Linked DNA regions of Homo sapiens: region 2 is linked to region 1. The links come from fine-mapping of genetic effects on gene expression. A gene starts in region 1. The other region holds a variant in brackets. All regions are shown on one strand. Distances are from middle to middle.

The links. PIP is the estimated chance that this variant, and not a neighbour inherited with it, causes the effect.
Region 2: its variant is fine-mapped to the expression of GARS1 in whole blood (TOPMed, PIP 0.93).

What each region holds. Positions count from the first base shown.
Region 1 is chr7:30,589,390-30,598,227 of GRCh38, forward strand. GARS1 (glycyl-tRNA synthetase 1) reads left to right here and starts at 5,489. Exons shown (of 17, transcript NM_002047.4): 1 at 5,489-5,754. The coding sequence starts at 5,533. RefSeq lists enhancers at 4,944-5,557, 5,188-5,537, 5,558-6,171, 6,172-6,785 and a silencer at 6,681-6,780.
Region 2 is chr7:30,636,087-30,644,924 of GRCh38, forward strand. It overlaps LOC124901609 (a long non-coding RNA gene), which reads left to right and starts at 6,230. Exons shown (of 2, transcript XR_007060276.1): 1 at 6,230-6,750. RefSeq lists an enhancer at 5,721-6,416. The variant G/T (reference allele first, on the strand shown) is at 3,450.

The sequences.
Region 1 (8,838 bases):
CAGATCACACAGGAATTAAACTAGAAAGCAACAATTAAAATAATAGGATATGTTAAAAAGCCCTAAATATTTGGAAATTAAATAACACTTTTCTCGACAAGGAGTAAGTCAAAGAAGAAATCATAAAGAAAATTAGAAAGTACTTTGAACTAAATGAAAATGAAAACAATGTATCAAAAATTTGTGGATTTAACTAAAGCAGTAAGTAGAAGGAAATCTATAATTTCAAATGTTTGTCTTAGAAGAAAGGCTTATAAATTTTCATATTGAGAAGCTAAAAAAGAAGAGCAAATTAAACCCAGAGTAAGTAAAAAGGAAAACATTATAAAGATAAAAGTGGAAATCAATGGAATAGAAAATAGACAAAATAATAGAGAACATTAACAAACCCAAAACTTTTATGTTTAACAAAATTGATAAAATTGGTAAGCTTTTAGCAAGACTAATCAAGAAAAGAGAGGGAGAGAAAAAAACTAATTACTGGTATCAGGAATGAAAGAGGAGATTTCATTCCAGATCTTATACATATATTCAAATAATACTACTGGAATATTATGAACAACTTTAAAACAATAAATCTGATAACTTATATGAAATGGCCAGATTCCCTGAAAAACAAAACTTACCAAAAGTGGCAAAAGATGAAATAGAAAGCATGGATGGCTCTGCAACTGCAAAAAAACTTTTCCACAAAGAAAACTCCAGAATTCACTGGTGAATTCTATCAAATGGTTATGGAAGAAATGATAACAATCTTACAAATATTGAAATTTCAGAAAATAGAGAAGAAAGAAACTCTGATTTTATAAAGCCAGGCCAAAACCTGGCAAAGATACAAGAAAAGAAAACAATACACTGATTGCCTGTATGTTCATTTTTCATGAACATACAGGCAAAAATCTTTATCAAGATGTTAGTAAATAAAATCCAGCAGAATATAAGAAAGACAAAACCAAGTTGAATTTGTTAGCATTACACTAAATGGAGAAACATTGAACACTTTTCCCTCTAATATCAGGAACAAGGCAAGATGTTCATTCACTGCTTCTATTCAATATTGTGCAAGATGACCTAGACTACGCAACCACACAAGTAAAAGAAAAAGGCATAAATATTGGAAAGAAAGAAGTAAAACTGATTCTATTTACAAAGTATATGCATATTAATACAGAAAATCCTAAGGAATCGGCCGGGCGCGGTGGCTCACGCCTGTAATCCCAGCACTTTGGGAGGCCGAGGCGGGTGGATCATGAGGTCAGGAGATCGAGACCATCCTGGCTAACAAGGTGAAACCCCGTCTCTACTAAAAATACAAAAAATTAGCCGGGCGCGGTGGCGGGCGCCTGTAGTCCCAGCTACTCGGGAGGCTGAGGCAGGAGAATGGCGTGAACCCGGGAAGCGGAGCTTGCAGTGAGCCGAGATTGCGCCACTGCAGTCCGCAGTCCGGCCTGGGCGACAGAGCGAGACTCCGTCTCAAAAAAAAAAGAAAATCCTAAGGAATCTACAACCCCCGCCCCTACAAAACAAATAATAGCACTAATAAGTGAAAGTCTCAATGTCACTATACAAAATCAATTATATTTCTCTACATTAACAGCAAATCAATGGAAAATAAAATAACATTCACAAGACTCAAAGAATAAAATACTTAGGAATATATTTATCAAAATGCATTCAGTGCTTTAAACTATGAATTCTCCCCAAATTAAACTACAGGTTCACAATTCCAGCAGGTATTTTTACAAAGTTGATAAGTCAATTCTAAAATTTATATAGAAATAGAAAGAACCTGGAATAGAAAAACAATTTTGAAAAAGAAGAAAGGGTAGACAATATACATTATTTGACTTCAGGAATTATCCTCAAGCAATAGTCATCAAGGAAGTGTGATACTAGCATAAAGATTGATAGATAAATGGATCATTAGAACAGAATAGAGACCCCAGATATAGGTCCACCTTATATGGTGAACTTATTTTTGACAAAGGCACTAGAGCTGATCAATGGCAGTAATTTTTTGTAAGCCCTACTTTTTTCCAACAAATGATGCTGTAGCAACTGGATATCTATATGGGAAGAATGAACTTTGACTCTTACCTAAAACTATACACAAAAGTTAATTCAAGATGCATCATAGACCTAAACATAAAACTACTAAAATTTTGGACAAAAATATGGGTGAATATCTGAGAGTAGGCAAAGATTTTTTAGAACCCAGAAAAAAAACAAATTGATAAATTAGACTTCATCAAAATTAAAAATTTCTGCTTATCAAAACCATCATTAACAAACAGGCAAGCCACAGACTGGAAGAAAATATTTATGAAACATGTACCTAGCAAAGGACTGTATCCAGCATATCTAAATCTCCTATAATTCAATATTAAAAAGCAAAGACAAAAAATGTGGATGTTTCACAAAAGAAGAGGTACAAATGACCACTAAGCACATGAAAACACAATCAACTCTATTAATCACCAGGAAAATGCATACAAGTCACAATGAGATACAACTATTAGAATAGCTAAAATCTGGAAGGCCGGCAACATCAAATGTTAACAAGGATGTGGAGCAACTAGAACTCTTATATATTGCTCTTAAGAACATAAAATAATACGACCACATTGGAAAAACTTGTGACAATCTAATAAAATTAAATATGCATCTATTGTTTGACTCAGTAATTCCGCACCTAGATATTTACCCAAGAGAAATGAAAACATATAGCTACAAAAAAAGATGTATGAGAATGTTCACAGCAGCATTATTCATAATGGTCTACAATATGAAACAACCCAAATGTCTATCAACTAGTGAATAAATTAATAAATTATAGTATATTCACACAATGGGATACTTCAGAGCAAAAAAGGGCAAGTTTCTGATATGTGAAACAATATGGATTAATCTCTCACACATTATGGTCAATTAAAGACATCAGACACAGAGTACATATTACATTATTTCATTTATACAACAGTCTAGATCTAAGAGGAAAATAAATGAGAATAGTGATCGCCTGGTTGTGGAGGGTGGGATGACCGGGATGACATGCAAGGGAACTTTGTGGAGTCAGGGGAAAATGTTCTTTATCTTGCTTGGTGTTGGGGTTACAAAAGGATATTGCTTTGTCGAAACCCATTGAACTATACATTTTTGTTCATTTTAATGTATGCAAAATTTATTTCCCTCAAAGAAATGAACTTTAATAAAGCAAGAAAAATATATGATCATACATACACAATACTAGGGCCTCTTGCAGGGCACTTAAAGAGCCCAACAGAGAAAGGGGCTAAACTCACTTGAAGCTTCATTAGCTATGTAGAAAATCTGCCTCTGCCCCCAGCTCACATTCTGGCCCAACACTCACTTAGTTGTGTGACCATGGACAAGCTGTTTGATATCTCAGTCCCTTGAATCCCACATGTGAAAATTCTGAATAACTATAGAACCTATCTCACTAAATTGGTGAATAAATTCCATGAGATAAATTAGAACTAACTGGTACATAGTGAGTGCTCAACAAACATAAACTATTATCATTATTGTGCAGACACAGTTTTCAAAAGAAAACTGTTTGGGAAATTCTTCCAAGGGCCATGAAGAGCCTACTGAAGTGTCCTGAGAAGAGAAGGGACACAGTCAGATTTGCCTTTCAGAAATAATGACTGGGCCGAGTGCAGTGGCTCACACCTGTAATCCCAGCACTTTGGAAGGCTGAGGCGGGCGGATCACGAGGTCAGGAGTTCGAGACCAGCATGACCAACATGGTGAAACCTCGTCTCTACTAAAAATAAAAAAATTAGCTGGGTGTGGTGGCGCACGCCTGTAATCCCAGCTACTCAGGAGGCTGAGGCAGGAGAATCGCCTGAACCCGGGAGGCGGAGGTTGCAGTGAGCCAAGATCACGCCACTGCACTCCAGCCTGGGTGAAAGAGCGAGACTCCGTCTGGAAAAAAAAAGAAAAAGAAAAAAGAAAGAAAGAATGACTGAAGCAGCAGTGGGGAGGATGAATTGGTCGGGGAGGAGGGAAGAACGGATTTGGAGTCCTTTCAGGACTGTCCTAACATGAAAATGGATGAGACATTATTGATCTAAGGAATTTTTTAGAAATAAAATAGTTTTATTCAAAGGATATAGAATTTCAACATTTTAATAAAAATCTAAATAAAAATAAAAGTAAAACTTAAAATGATTTTTCACATTTAAAGATATTAAAATAAATTCAAAATTGCCTAGTAAAATAAAAGCCAAATAAATTATAATTAATATCAAATCTTGAAATAAAAGTGTTTAAAAATATAATTGTTCAATATTGCAGAAGGTTCTTAAGCAACCCACCCTGCTCATGTTGAATTGTAAGTACTTCTCCAGAACTGCACACTGGAACGGGAAGAGAAATAACATGGACTTTCACACCATTAGGAAAGGAGACTTCATTATACTGAGCCCGTCTACTCCTGCACACTCCTGGGGTGGGATTGTGGGTCACAGGGAGACGTACGTGCATACTGCCGAAGAGCTCCCAAGTGGCTGGCTGCACCAGTTAACACTCCCCTGAGCAGTGTAGGGGAGTCTCAGAGGGTCACTTGGCATTTTCCATCATTTTCATTTTAGCCATTTTTGCAGGTGTGCGCAATGCTGTTTTTATAACCAACACATCATTTTTCTCTTCCTTTCCTGGAGGGGGAACCCAGCTTTTCTAGGCCCTCCACCCTTTGGGCAGGAGGAACTGGGTGTGTGGGGCGGGGGGAAGCCATCTCTGGGTGGTTGGTCAGCTGGGGCCTAACCACAGGAGGCAGATAGACTGAGGCTATGCCAAGCAGAAAGACTTATCAGGCACCTCTTGCCTTTCCTCATCTCTGCCGGTTCAAATCCTGCTCGCCCCGCAAGGGCAGATTGGAATTTACCTTCTCCAGAAAGCCTGGGGTGACTCTATCCCCTCACTCCTCCTCCCCCGTTCGCCAGCTTTTGTCTTGACATCGGCGGACCAAGAATGTGTGACTCTGGGCAAATCATTAACCTCTCTGGGCCTATTTCCTTATCTGGGGAACATCTGCACTTGAGCAACAGAAGTCTAAGATCCCTATCTGATTTGATGTTTTGCGACCCTTTTAAGGCGCAGGGCGCGAAAGAACAGAAACAGAAGTGTCCGTTCAAGTAGGTCGGCCGGGGTGTCACTCGTATAAAAACCTATGCTTTGAAGGTTCTCGTGTGTCTCGGCCTGCAGGTCTCGCTCAGAGCTGTGTCCCTGAACATCCACCCTGCTGGGGTGGCTTGACGCACTTCTGTGCAAATCTGTTCGCTCGCAACCCTACCTACCTCTCTCCCGAACCGGAGAAAACCTTCGGCGGGGTCCTTCCGGGTTTTGTGTCGAATCTGCGGCGGCGACCCGGCGCCGCGTCACGCGGTGGTGAATGTGCGGCAGCACGCGCGCCGCGTCGTTTACGCGGCGATTTCATCATGCTCCGAGCCGGGCGGCGCGCGCCGCTTCCGTCGCCACCCTCTCTGGACAGCCCAGGGCCGCAGGCTCATGCCCTCTCCGCGTCCAGTGCTGCTTAGAGGTGCTCGCGCCGCTCTGCTGCTGCTGCTGCCGCCCCGGCTCTTAGCCCGACCCTCGCTCCTGCTCCGCCGGTCCCTCAGCGCGGCCTCCTGCCCCCCGATCTCCTTGCCCGCCGCCGCCTCCCGGAGCAGCATGGACGGCGCGGGGGCTGAGGAGGTGCTGGCACCTCTGAGGCTAGCAGTGCGCCAGCAGGTACCGGTGTTTTGCGCTCTCCGCTAAGCCTCCGGCTCTCCTCCCAGGGCCTTCTTCTGGTCATCCTTCCCTCCTCCCCGGGGAACTGTCCTCCTCTTCGGTTACCCCTTTCTTTCCCTTCATCCTCTGGCGTCTTCTTCGCCTCCCCCACTTTGGTCCCAAGTCCCCCGTGCGTCAGCCACCTCCTCTCCCGCGGACCTCCGTCCTCCTCTCTTTTTGGATGACTCCCTGGAACCCCTCCGACTTCCTGCGTCCCTCTCCGGCTCCGTTCTCCCTTCCCCATTCTGTCACAGCCCGCGTCTCCTCTATTTCCAGTGGGGCTGGGATCTGTGACCCTTTGGTTGTCCTCGCCTCCTAACTGAATAACCTTAACTTCAGTTTTCCAGGCTCTGCTGTACTCTTTGTGCACCCTGGGTGGAAAGCCTCCTAATTCTTTCAGTGGTCAATGATGAGCCGAAAAACTGCCGGTTCTTTCGTCTTACGGCCAGGCCCTTTAATCTTTAGGATGCTTTGATAGTGTTTCCCCCTTAACATCTTCCTTCATTCAGTGCTTAGTTTAGCGGAATGATTGGCTGAGAAAATAGAATTGAAATGTGGATGTGGGGAGGTGTCGAACTTTTCTATTAATGCTGTGAACTCATCATCCTTTGCTCTTGTCATCTTTTCTGGCTTCTGAAAAGGCCGTTTGGAACCAGTGAGCCCTCAGATCGTAAACCTGGGAAACTAAGTGTTGCGGAGTGAAGTCAGCCATCCTTAGTATGGAATATTTTGACATTTGATTTTCCCGAAGGTGAGGGAAGGTTTCATGGGCTGAAGGACTTGGTGATTTAATATAGACCTCCTTTTCCTAGGGCACTGCCATAGAGTTTAGAATTTAGAGATATCAAGGAAAAGATTATTTCAGATGATTCCCATATGCAATTAGGGAGAGCCAGAGCTTGCAGTAGGACCCCGGAGATCATGACTTAGTAGTAAACACCAAACGGGTTTCTCCTGCATGGGCGCCTGATGCAATAATTTGCCTTAGCTACAGAGGGTGGAACCCTATCTCGGAAATAATTCATTGGGGCATAGCTGCCGCAAATTCAGCCACTTTGCCATCTGTCCTCTTCGCTGGTTTGAGCCTGACCGATTTTAATAAATAGCCTTTCATTTTGAAATATCACCACGGGCTTAACTTTTTTCTTCATGATTGGTGTCAGAACACCGATTGCATATTCTGTCTCCCTCCACCCACCTTCCACTCCACAAATAAAATTAGGTGTGGTTCCTTTGTCTTTTCTTAACTTGCCATTTTAAAAAATATCCTTCCCTTTAGAAGGAAGCATACAACTAATTTGGAGAAAAAAAAAAACCACCACACCCAAACCCCTCCCTCTGCCACGTTAGCCTGGAACTGCAGTGAAAATCATCCATCGGTAGTTAAGACAGGATCTAGTTAACTAAAGTAAACTTTGATCGCGGCAGCTTTCCGATGCTACTAACTACTGTCTTGTGTATTGTTTATGTTGTCTTGATTATTGTTTTGTACTTTAAGATATTTTCCGAATATACGAGTTAGTTGATTTAAGTTAGTTTGGATATTTTTTTCTAATTTTCCAAGAACACACATATATCAGTTAGTTAATTGTGTGAATTACTGAGTCCTATGTCAGCTGAAAAATAATTTAAAGATGATCTAATTTTACCCATTTTTTGTATATGGGGAAATGAGACACACTGTCACCCCTATCCATTTTGGATAACTCCATTGTGAAGTGCAATTGAAAACCTTTCCGGAGTGGGATTTTTACTTAATGACTGGTCTTGTTAGTAGCACATGTTTCATAGAAATTTGTTAATCTGGAAAATGAATGAAGTGAGTTTGTCACTTTAAGAAAACAACGGTTAGTATTTGTGGCCAATAATAAAATTCAAACTTTGGGGAAATTTTAGAATTTGGGAAGACTCGTATCTTTTGCTGTGAGCTTGGCAGCTTCACAGTCCTTAAAGATATCTGTGATGAGATGAGTGGTGATATTAACAAACGTGGATTTTTTTTTGATAGTATTTGGATAATCTGCGTAACTCAGTGAACCAGTGTTTTCCAGGTGACCAATGCATGATGTTATGAAATCAGGTATTGGTGAAAGAGCCATTCAAAGCTTAAGATACATTAATAGATTTATTCTGACAGTACAAAAAATTCATTGCTATAGTTTCTGAGTTAGAAATAACCTTGAAGAAGCTACCACTTGTCAGAGTTTTGAGGTAGTATCAAAGAATATCCACAATTATCCGAAACGGCTTTTAAAATTATTTTTCCTTTTCCACCTACATATGTCTTTCTTCATATACTTTACCCAGAACGTCATATTACAAAAGAAGCAGACTTTCCACATTGGTCTTTTAGGATTTTTCACAGATTAAGGTTACCAAAATAGTAAGTGCCAAACTCAAAATTTAAAAACCCATGAGGAAACAAGCCACCTTGAGTGAGACTTAGGGGAAATGATAATAGAATTAGATCCTCCAAAAGTATTAGAATAATCACATATTTTTAAAATGCTTAAGATAATTTTTAAAATAAAAGAAGTACTCAAAAACATGAGCAAAGAACAAGAGACTACCAAAAACAATCACACAGTGTGAAAATGAAGCACATATTGTATGGAAATGGATCACTGAAATTAGAAACTCTGTTGGGTGCCCAAGGGCTATATCAATTTAACAACTTTAATTACTCAGCTGAAAGTTTTTCATCCTATATAGGTAATATTTTGTTTGTTTACTCAGATGACCTATTCCACCATATTACTATAAATATGGAATTAGTATAAGTTGTTGGAAGTTAATAAAATAATTCAGAAATATTAGCAAGGAAAAAATTCCAACTGTAAAGAGAAAGGCAAAGGAAGATGAGCCAGCAGTGACTGAGAAGAATGGTCAGAGAAGTGGGAGGAAAACTGAATAATGTTTTTATTTTTTTTTGTAAGCGAGAGGAGAGAGATTTAAGAAGGTGGTCAATTTATTGGTTCTTCTGTGTTCTCAGTACAAATCTTGCTCTTTCCTACTTTTTAATCAATGCTTTTGTCTCCTCCTTTT
Region 2 (8,838 bases), 47 kb after region 1:
TGAAGAGACTCTTTACCCACGAGTTTGCGTATGCATACGCACACACCTCTTCTGTTCAAGCCCAATGTGTATTTAAAGCATGGGTCTTTCTGGCTTAATGCTCTTTGAGGCCTTTTAAATTATTTATATACCTGTACGTACCGGACTGTGGGCTTAACAAGAGTGAGATAAATAGCATTGTATCTTGGAGAAGTTACTCCTGTTTATTACTTCTCCCAAAAATGATGGGGGAAGGTCAGATTCTTTTTTTTTTTTTTCTTGTGCTTAGTGCCAAATTTTATTTTTCTTTGGAAGACTGACATTAAACGTGAGAAAAACAAAGGATAACAAAAATTATCTTTATTTTCAAAATAACTTTACTAAACTATACTGATTACAAATAATACAGTCTAATGAAAACAAAGCCACTTAAAAAAGTTTAAAGAAGACATGTATGTGTAATTTTCTCATATAATTAACACTTTAAATTATTTTACAGAGTGTCATTTTAGAAATGGGTTGATACTATTTTGAATTATAGAATTAAAGTATGATCAGCATCTAATACAAAAACATACAATTAGATATTTTCTATTTTTCTGCTTTTAACTATTATTTAAGAATTTAATCTTTTTAGATTAGCCATCAGGGAAAATATATAGAATCACGGTATTCATTTATTATGTATATGAGGAAATTAACACCTTTATAATAACTCTCATGCTTTTTTCCTGAAAATTTTCTTTTTTTTTTTTAATTATACTTTAAGTTTTAGGGTACATGTGCACATTGTGCAGGTTAGTTACATACGTATACGTGTGCCATGCTGGTGCACTGCACCCACTAACTCGTCATCTAGCATTAGGTATATCTCCCAATGCTATACCTCCCCCCTCCCCCCACCCCACAACAGTCTCCAGTGTGATATTCCCCTTCCTGTGTCCATCTGTTCTCATTGTTCAATTCCCACCTATGAGTGAGAATATGCGGTGTTTGGTTTTTTGTTCTTGCAATAGTTTACTGAGAATGATGTTTTCCAATTTCATCCATGTCCCTACAAAGGACATGAACTCATCATTTTTTATGGCTGCATAGTATTCCATGGTGTATATGTGCCACATTTTCTTAATCCAGTCTATCATTGTTGGACATTTGGGTTGGTTCCAAGTCTTTGCTATTGTGAATAATGCCGCAATAAACATACATGTGCATGTGTCTTTATAGCAGCATGATTTATAGTCCTTTGGGTATATACCCAGTAATGGGATGGCTGGGTCAAATGGTATTTCCAGTTCTAGATCCCTGAGGAATCGCCACACTGACTTCCACAATGGTTGAACTAGTTTACAGTCCCACCAACAGTGTAAAAGTGTTCCTATTTCTCCACATCCTCTCCAGCACCTGTTGTTTCCTGACTTTTTCATGATTGCCATTCTAACTGGTGTGAGATGGTATCTCATTGTGGTTTTGATTTGCATTTCTCTGATGGCCAGTGATGATGAGCATTTTTTCATGTGTTTTTTGGCTGCATAAATGTCTTCTTTTGAGAAGTGTCTGTTCATGTCCTTCGCCCACTTTTTGATGGGGTTGTTTGTTTTTTTCTTGTAAATTTGTTTGAGTTCATTGTAGATTCTGGATATTAGCCCTTTGTCAGATGAGTAGGTTGCGAAAATTTTCTCCCATGTTGTAGGTTGCCTGTTCACTCTGATGGTAGTTTCTTTTGCTATGCAGAAGCTCTTTAATTTAATTAGATCCCATTTGTCAATTTTGTCTTTTGTTGCCATTGCTTTTGGTGTTTTAGACATGAAGTCCTTGCCCATGCCTATGTCCTGAATGGTAATGCCTAGGTTTTCTTCTAGGGTTTTTATGGTTTTAGGTCTAACGTTTAAGTCTTTAATCCATCTTGAATTGATTTTTGTATAAGGTGTAAGGAAGGGATCCAGTTTCAGCTTTCTACATATGGCTAGCCAGTTTTCCCAGCACCATTTATTAAATAGGGAATCCTTTCCCCATTGCTTGTTTTTCTCAGGTTTGTCAAAGATCAGATAGTTGTAGATATGCGGCGTTATTTCTGAGGGCTCTGTTCTGTTCCATTGATCTATATCTCTGTTTTGGTACCAGTACCATGCTGTTTTGGTTACTGTAGCCTTGTAGTATAGTTTGAAGTCAGGTAGCGTGATGCCTCCAGCTTTGTTCTTTTGGCTTAGGATTGCCTTGGCGATGCGGGCTCTTTTTTGGTTCCATATGAACTTTAAAGTAGTTTTTTCCAATTCTGTGAAGAAAGTCATTGGTAGCTTGATGGGGATGGCATTGAATCTGTAAATTACCTTGGGCAGTATGGCCATTTTCACGATATTGATTCTTCCTACCCATGAGCATGGAATGTTCTTCCATTTGTTTGTATCCTCTTTTATTTCCTTGAGCAGTGGTTTGTAGTTCTCCTTGAAGAGGTCCTTCACATCCCTTGTAAGTTGGATTCCTAGGTATTTTATTCTCTTTGAAGCAATTGTGAATGGGAGTTCACTCATGATTTGGCTCTCTGTTTGTCTGTTGTTTGGTGTATAAGAATGCTTGTGATTTTTATACATTGATTTTGTATCCTGAGACTTTGCTGAAGTTGCTTATCAGCTTAAGGAGATTTTGGGCTGAGACAACGGGGTTTTCTAGATATACAATCATGTCGTCTGCAAACAGGGACAATTTGACTTCCTCTTTTCCTAATTGAATACCCTGTATTTCCTTCTCCTGCCTAATTGCCCTGGCCAGAACTTCCAACACTATGTTGAATAGGAGTGGTGAGAGAGGGCATCCCTGTCTTGTGCCAGTTTTCAAAGGGAATGCTTCCAGTTTTTGCCCATTCAGTATGATATTGGCTGTGGGTTTGTCATAGATAGCTCTTATTATTTTGAAATACGTCCTATCAATACCTAATTTATTGAGAGTTTTTAGCATGAAGGGTTGTTGAATTTTGTCAAAGGCTTTTTCTGCATCTATTGAGATAATCATGTGGTTTTTGTCTTTGGCTCTGTTTATATGCTGGATTACATTTATTGATTTGCGTATATTGAACCAGCCTTGCATCCCAGGGATGAAGCCCACTTGATCATGGTGGATAAGCTTTTTGATGTGCTGCTGGATTCGGTCTGCCAGTATTTTATTGAGGATTTTTGCATCAATGTTCATCAAGGATATTGGTCTAAAATCCTCTTTTTTTGTTGTGTCTCTGCCTGGCTTTGGTATCAGAATGATGTTGGCCTCATAAAATGAGTTAGGGACGATTCCCTCTTTTTCTATTGATTGGAATAGTTTCAGAAGGAATGGTACCAGTTCCTCCTTGTACCTCTGGTAGAATTCAGCTGTGAATCCATCTGGTCCTGGACTCTTTTTGGTTGGTAAGCTATTGATTATTGCCACAATTTCAGATCCTGTTATTGGTCTATTCAGAGATTCAACTTCTTCCTGGTTTAGTC[G/T]TGGGAGAGTGTATGTGTCGAGGAATTTATCCATTTCTTCTAGATTTTCTAGTTTATTTGCGTAGAGGTGTTTGTACTATTCTCTGATCGTAGTTTGTATTTCTGTGGGATCGGTGGTGATATCCCCTTTATCATTTTTTATTGCGTCTATTAGATTCTTCTCTTTTTTTCTTTATTAGTCTTGCTAGCGGTCTATCAGTTTTGTTGATCCTTTCAAAAAACCAGCTCCTGGATTCATTAATTTTTTGAAGGGTTTTTTGTGTCTCTATTTCCTTCAGTTCTGCTCTGATCTTAGTTATTTCTTGCCTTCTGCTAGCTTTTGAATGTGTTTGCTCTTGCTTTTCTAGTTCTTTTAATTGTGATGTTAGGGTGTCAATTTTGGATCTTTCCTGCTTTCTCTTGTGGACATTTAGTGCTATAAATTTCCCTCTACACACTGCTTTGAATGCGTCCCAGAGATTCTGGTATGTTGTGTCTTTGTTCTCATTGGTTTCAAAGAACATCTTTATTTCTGCCTTCATTTCGTTATGTACCCAGTAGTCATTCAGGAACAGGTTGTTCAGTTTCCATGCAGTTGAGCGGTTTTGAGTGAGATTCTTAATCCTGAGTTCTAGTTTGATTGCACTGTGGTCTGAGAGATAGTTTGTTATAATTTCTGTTCTTTTACATTTGCTGAGGAGAGCTTTACTTCCAAGTATGTGGTCAATTTTGGAATAGGTGTGGTGTGGTGCTGAAAAAAATGTATATTCTGTTGATTTGGGGTGGAGAGTTCTGTAGATGTCTATTAGGTCTGCTTGGTGCAGAGCTGAGTTCAATTCCTGGGTATCCTTGTTGACTTTCTGTCTCATTGATCTGTCTAATGTTGACAGTGGGGTGTTAAAGTCTCCCATTATTAATGTGTGGGAGTCTAAGTCTCTTTGTAGGTCACTCAGGACTTGCTTTATGAATCTGGGTGCTCCTGTATTGGGTGCATATATATTTACGATAGTTAGCTCTTCTTGTTGAATTGATCCCTTTACCATTATGTAATGGCCTTCTTTGTCTCTTTTGATCTTTGTTGGTTTAAAGTCTGTTTTATCAGAGACTAGGATTGCAACCCCTGCCTTTTTTTGTTTTCCATTTGCTTGGTAGATCTTCCTCCATCCTTTTATTTTGAGCCTATGTGTGTCTCTGCACGTGAGATGGGTTTCCTGAATACAGCACACTGATGGGTCTTGAGTCTTTATCCAATTTGCCAGTCTGTGTCTTTTAATTGGAGCATTTAGTCCATTTACATTTAAAGTTAATATTGTTATGTGTGAATTTGATCCTGTCATTATGATGTTAGCTGGTGATTTTGCTCATTAGTTGATGCAGTTTCTTCCTAGTCTCGATGGTCTTTACATTTTGGCATGATTTTGCAGCGGCTGGTACCGGTTGTTCCTTTCCATGTTTAGCGCTTCCTTCAGGAGCTCTTTTAGGGCAGGCCTGGTGGTGACAAAATCTCTCAGCATTTGCTTGTCTGTAAAGTATTTTATTTCTCCTTCGCTTATGAAGCTTAGTTTGGCTGGATATGAAATTCTGGGTTGAAAATTCTTTTCTTTAAGAATGTTGAATATTGGCCCCCACTCTCTTCTGGCTTGTAGGGTTTCTGCCGAGAGATCTGCTGTTAGTCTGATGGGCTTCCCTTTGAGGGTAACCCAACCTTTCTCTCTGGCTGCCCTTAACATTTTTTCCTTCATTTCAACTTTGGTGAATCTGACAATTATGCGTCTTGGAGTTGCTCTTCTCGAGGAGTATCTTTGTGGCGTTCTCTGTATTTCCTGAATCTGAACGTTGGCCTGCCTTGCTAGATTGGGGAAGTTCTCCTGGATAATATCCTGCAGAGTGTTTTCCAACTTGGTTCCATTCTCCCCATCACTTTCAGGTACACCAATCAGACATAGATTTGGTCTTTTCACATAGTCCCATATTTCTTGGAGGCTTTGCTCGTTTCTTTTTATTCTTTTTTCTCTAAACTTCCCTTCTCGCTTCATTTCATTCATTTCATCTTCCATCGCTGATACCCTTTCTTCCAGTTGATCGCATTGGCTCCTGAGGCTTCTGCATTCTTCACGTAGTTCTCGAGCCTTGGTTTTCAGCTCCATCAGCTCCTTTAAGCACTTCTCTGTATTGGTTATTCTAGTTATACATTCTTCTAAATTGTTTTCAAAGTTTTCAACTTCTTTGCCTTTGGTTTGAATGTCCTCCCGTAGCTCAGAGTAATTTGATCATCTGAAGCCTTCTTCTCTCAGCTCGTCAAAGTCATTCTCCATCCAGCTTTGTTCAGTTGCTGGTGAGGAACTGCGTTCCTTTGGAGGAGGAGAGGCACTCTGCATTTTAGGGTTTCCAGTTTTTCTGTTCTGTTTTTTCCCCATCTTTGTGGTTTTATCTACTTTTGGTCTTTGATGATGGTGATGTACAGATGGGTTTTTGGTGTGGATGTCCTTTCTGTTTATTAGTTTTCCTTCTAACAGACAGGACCCTCAGCTGCAGGTCTGTTGGAATACCCTGCCGTGTGAGGTGTCAGTGTGCCCCTGCTGGGGGGTGCCTCCCAGTTAGACTGCTCGGGGGTCAGGGGTCAGGGACCCACTTGAGGAGGCAGTCTGCCCGTTCTCAGATCTCCAGCTGCGTGCTGGGAGAACCACTGCTCTCTTCAAAGCTGTCAGACAGGGACATTTAAGTCTGCAGAGGTTACTGCTGTCTTTTTGTTTGTGCCCTGCCCCCAGAGGTGGAGCCTACAGAGGCAGGCAGGCCTCCTTGACCTGTGGTGGGCTCCACCCAGTTCGAGCTTCCCAGCTGCTTTGTTTACCTAATCAAGCCTGGGCAATGGCGGGCGCCCCTCCCCCAGCCTCGCTGCCGCCTTGCAGTTTGATCTCAGACTGCTGTGCTAGCAATCAGCGAGATTCCGTGGGCGTAGGACCCTCCGAGCCAGGTGCGGGATATAGTCTCCTGGTGCGCCGTTTTTTAAGCCCGTCGGAAAAGCGCAGTATTCGGGTGGGAGTGACCCGATTTTCCAGGTGCCGTCCGTCACCCCTTTCTTTGACTCGGAAAGGGAACTCCCTGACCCCTTGCGCTTCCCAAGTGAGGCAATGCCTCGCCCTGCTTCGGCTCGCGCACGGTGCGTGCACCCACTGACCTGCGCCCACTGTCTGGCGCTCCCTAGTGAGATGAACCCGGTACCTCAGATGGAAATGCAGAAATCACCGTCTTCTGCGTCGCTCACGCTGGGAGCTGTAGACCGGAGCTGTTCCTATTCGGCCATCTTGGCTCCTCCAGGAAGGTCAGATTCTAACTAATTTCCATGGACTGTTATGTAAGAACACAGGAATTAGATTTTTAATACTTAGGTTGGAATTCAGGCATTCAGTCAAATGCAATGTGGAGTTACTTCAGAGAGGCTATCTGCCTGGCTTCTGCAGGAGTCCACCACCTTAATATTGCCCAACAGCTCATAATAGCAAAATGGTGGATATAGATGGTGTTCCAGAAAAGGAATTCATCACCAAGTCTAAAGAACATGGAAATAATCTTACTGTTTTCATGAGCTGGTACTAAAGATGTCAGACGTCTCAAGTTCTTTGTGATAAGAACTTGCAAAATCGTTTTTTTCATTAGAAGTCACATGAAGTAGATTCATTCTAGACCTTTATTTACTACTCCCTTAACCAGTGTAATTGCAGGGTAATGGCAGCAACTGTCTTAGTCAGTGGAGTCTATTCCTTGAGAGGGCTGGATGCCCTAGAGATAAATCCAAATTATCTCTGGTTATAGTTGCCCTGAAATGAACCTTCTTTCCCAAAGGAAAACTATTATCTGTATCTCTTGGGCTGGGCTAGGATGGAGAGGCTTTGAGAGCATTGCTTGCACCGGCATCTTTGCTGATAGTCTGACAATGTTTAAGGCAGGTGTTTGTGGCATTTGGCCAACACCAAAGTGAAATTTAGTTGAAGATTCAGTAAGTAAGTGGATGACTAATTTTGCTGTGCCTCAATGTTCGCCTGTTGTTGCCTGTTCAATAATTCTTGGTTATTGAGCTGCCTCTAAGCAGTAATTTAGTTAAGGCTGTGTGGATATCTGGAGGACTGTCTCCTCTAGAAATTGGGATGTGATTTGGGAGTATCACCAGGGGTTGCCTGAGAGGCGCAGCCTGCAGCTTCGCCCTCTTGGCTAAGAGCCCCTTCACTTTTGCTGGCAACATGCCCCCCTCTTGCTGGATGGGCTATCTTCCTTTCGTGTTGAAGGACACACCTTTGAAAATTTGTTGCCTCAGTAAAAGATGTTGGGGCAGTGGTTCTCAACCCTGGCTGCACATTAAAGTAACTTGAGCTTTAAAAAAAAACTCATGTCTGGGCTCCTCCTTAAACCAATTTAATGAGTTGAGGGTGGAGCCTGGGCATCAGTATATTAAGTCTCTTAGGAGAAGCACCACTACCACTGTTGCACCTTGTGAACTTTCTAGCTGTGTGAAAGGCTGGACCCATTGCTCTCTCAAAAGGGGTTTCCTCTGAGAATATGAATGTGTAGGACATTGTATCCAGTGAGACAGTTAGAGAAGTAGATGTGAGAGTGGGGAAGTGAGCAGTAGGATTTCTGTTTTCCCGGGGAATTTTAGGGAACCTTATTCTTGCTGGATGAGGGTAGTGGTGCCAAAGAGCAGAGGGGTGCTGTGAGCTCTGGGCCAGAAATAAAGTAAGCTGGCTTCTTGTCCTGACTCTTCTAGTGTCTGAACTTAATGATAGTTTCAGGAACTTGAGGCTAGGAAGAGAGAGCCCTTCTCTCTTTGGGAGCCAAAGCTCTCTGCACTCCTTTTTTTAATGTGCAAGACTTAGTGCACAAGTGAGCCTGCATAGAATTTGCCAGCCTATGCCTGCGTTTGCTGGGTCTTAAAACTCAATCACCAATAATTAGCACAAAAGCAGTTATGCTAACGAAAACAATTTAGGCAAATTGAAAGCTTTTTGGGCTCATCAAAACTCACTGTTCTGCATCTAAGTGTGAACTAATTGATAGAGAGATTAAGTACAGTGAAATTGTGGGAAAGAAAAAACCCACTGGCAAGCTTTAGAAAGTCTTTTGTTTTTTAAAAAAAACTTGAGCCCAGATTTTCCATTTTTTTGTCCAGCCTGTCAACTCCACCTGCACTCTATATCAGAATTGGGCCTACTTGTCACCACCTTCGTGGCCACCAGCTTGGGGCAAGCTGCCATCATCACCCATCTGGTTTACTGCAAAAGACTTGCCTGAACTCCCTGTTCGTGCCCTTGCCCCTTCATCAGCAGTTTTCCACCTGGCACCAGACTGCATTGGTCCTCAAAACTCAGTGGCCTTCCTTACCTTTCCTTTCCTTTTTCCTTTCCCCTTTCCTTTC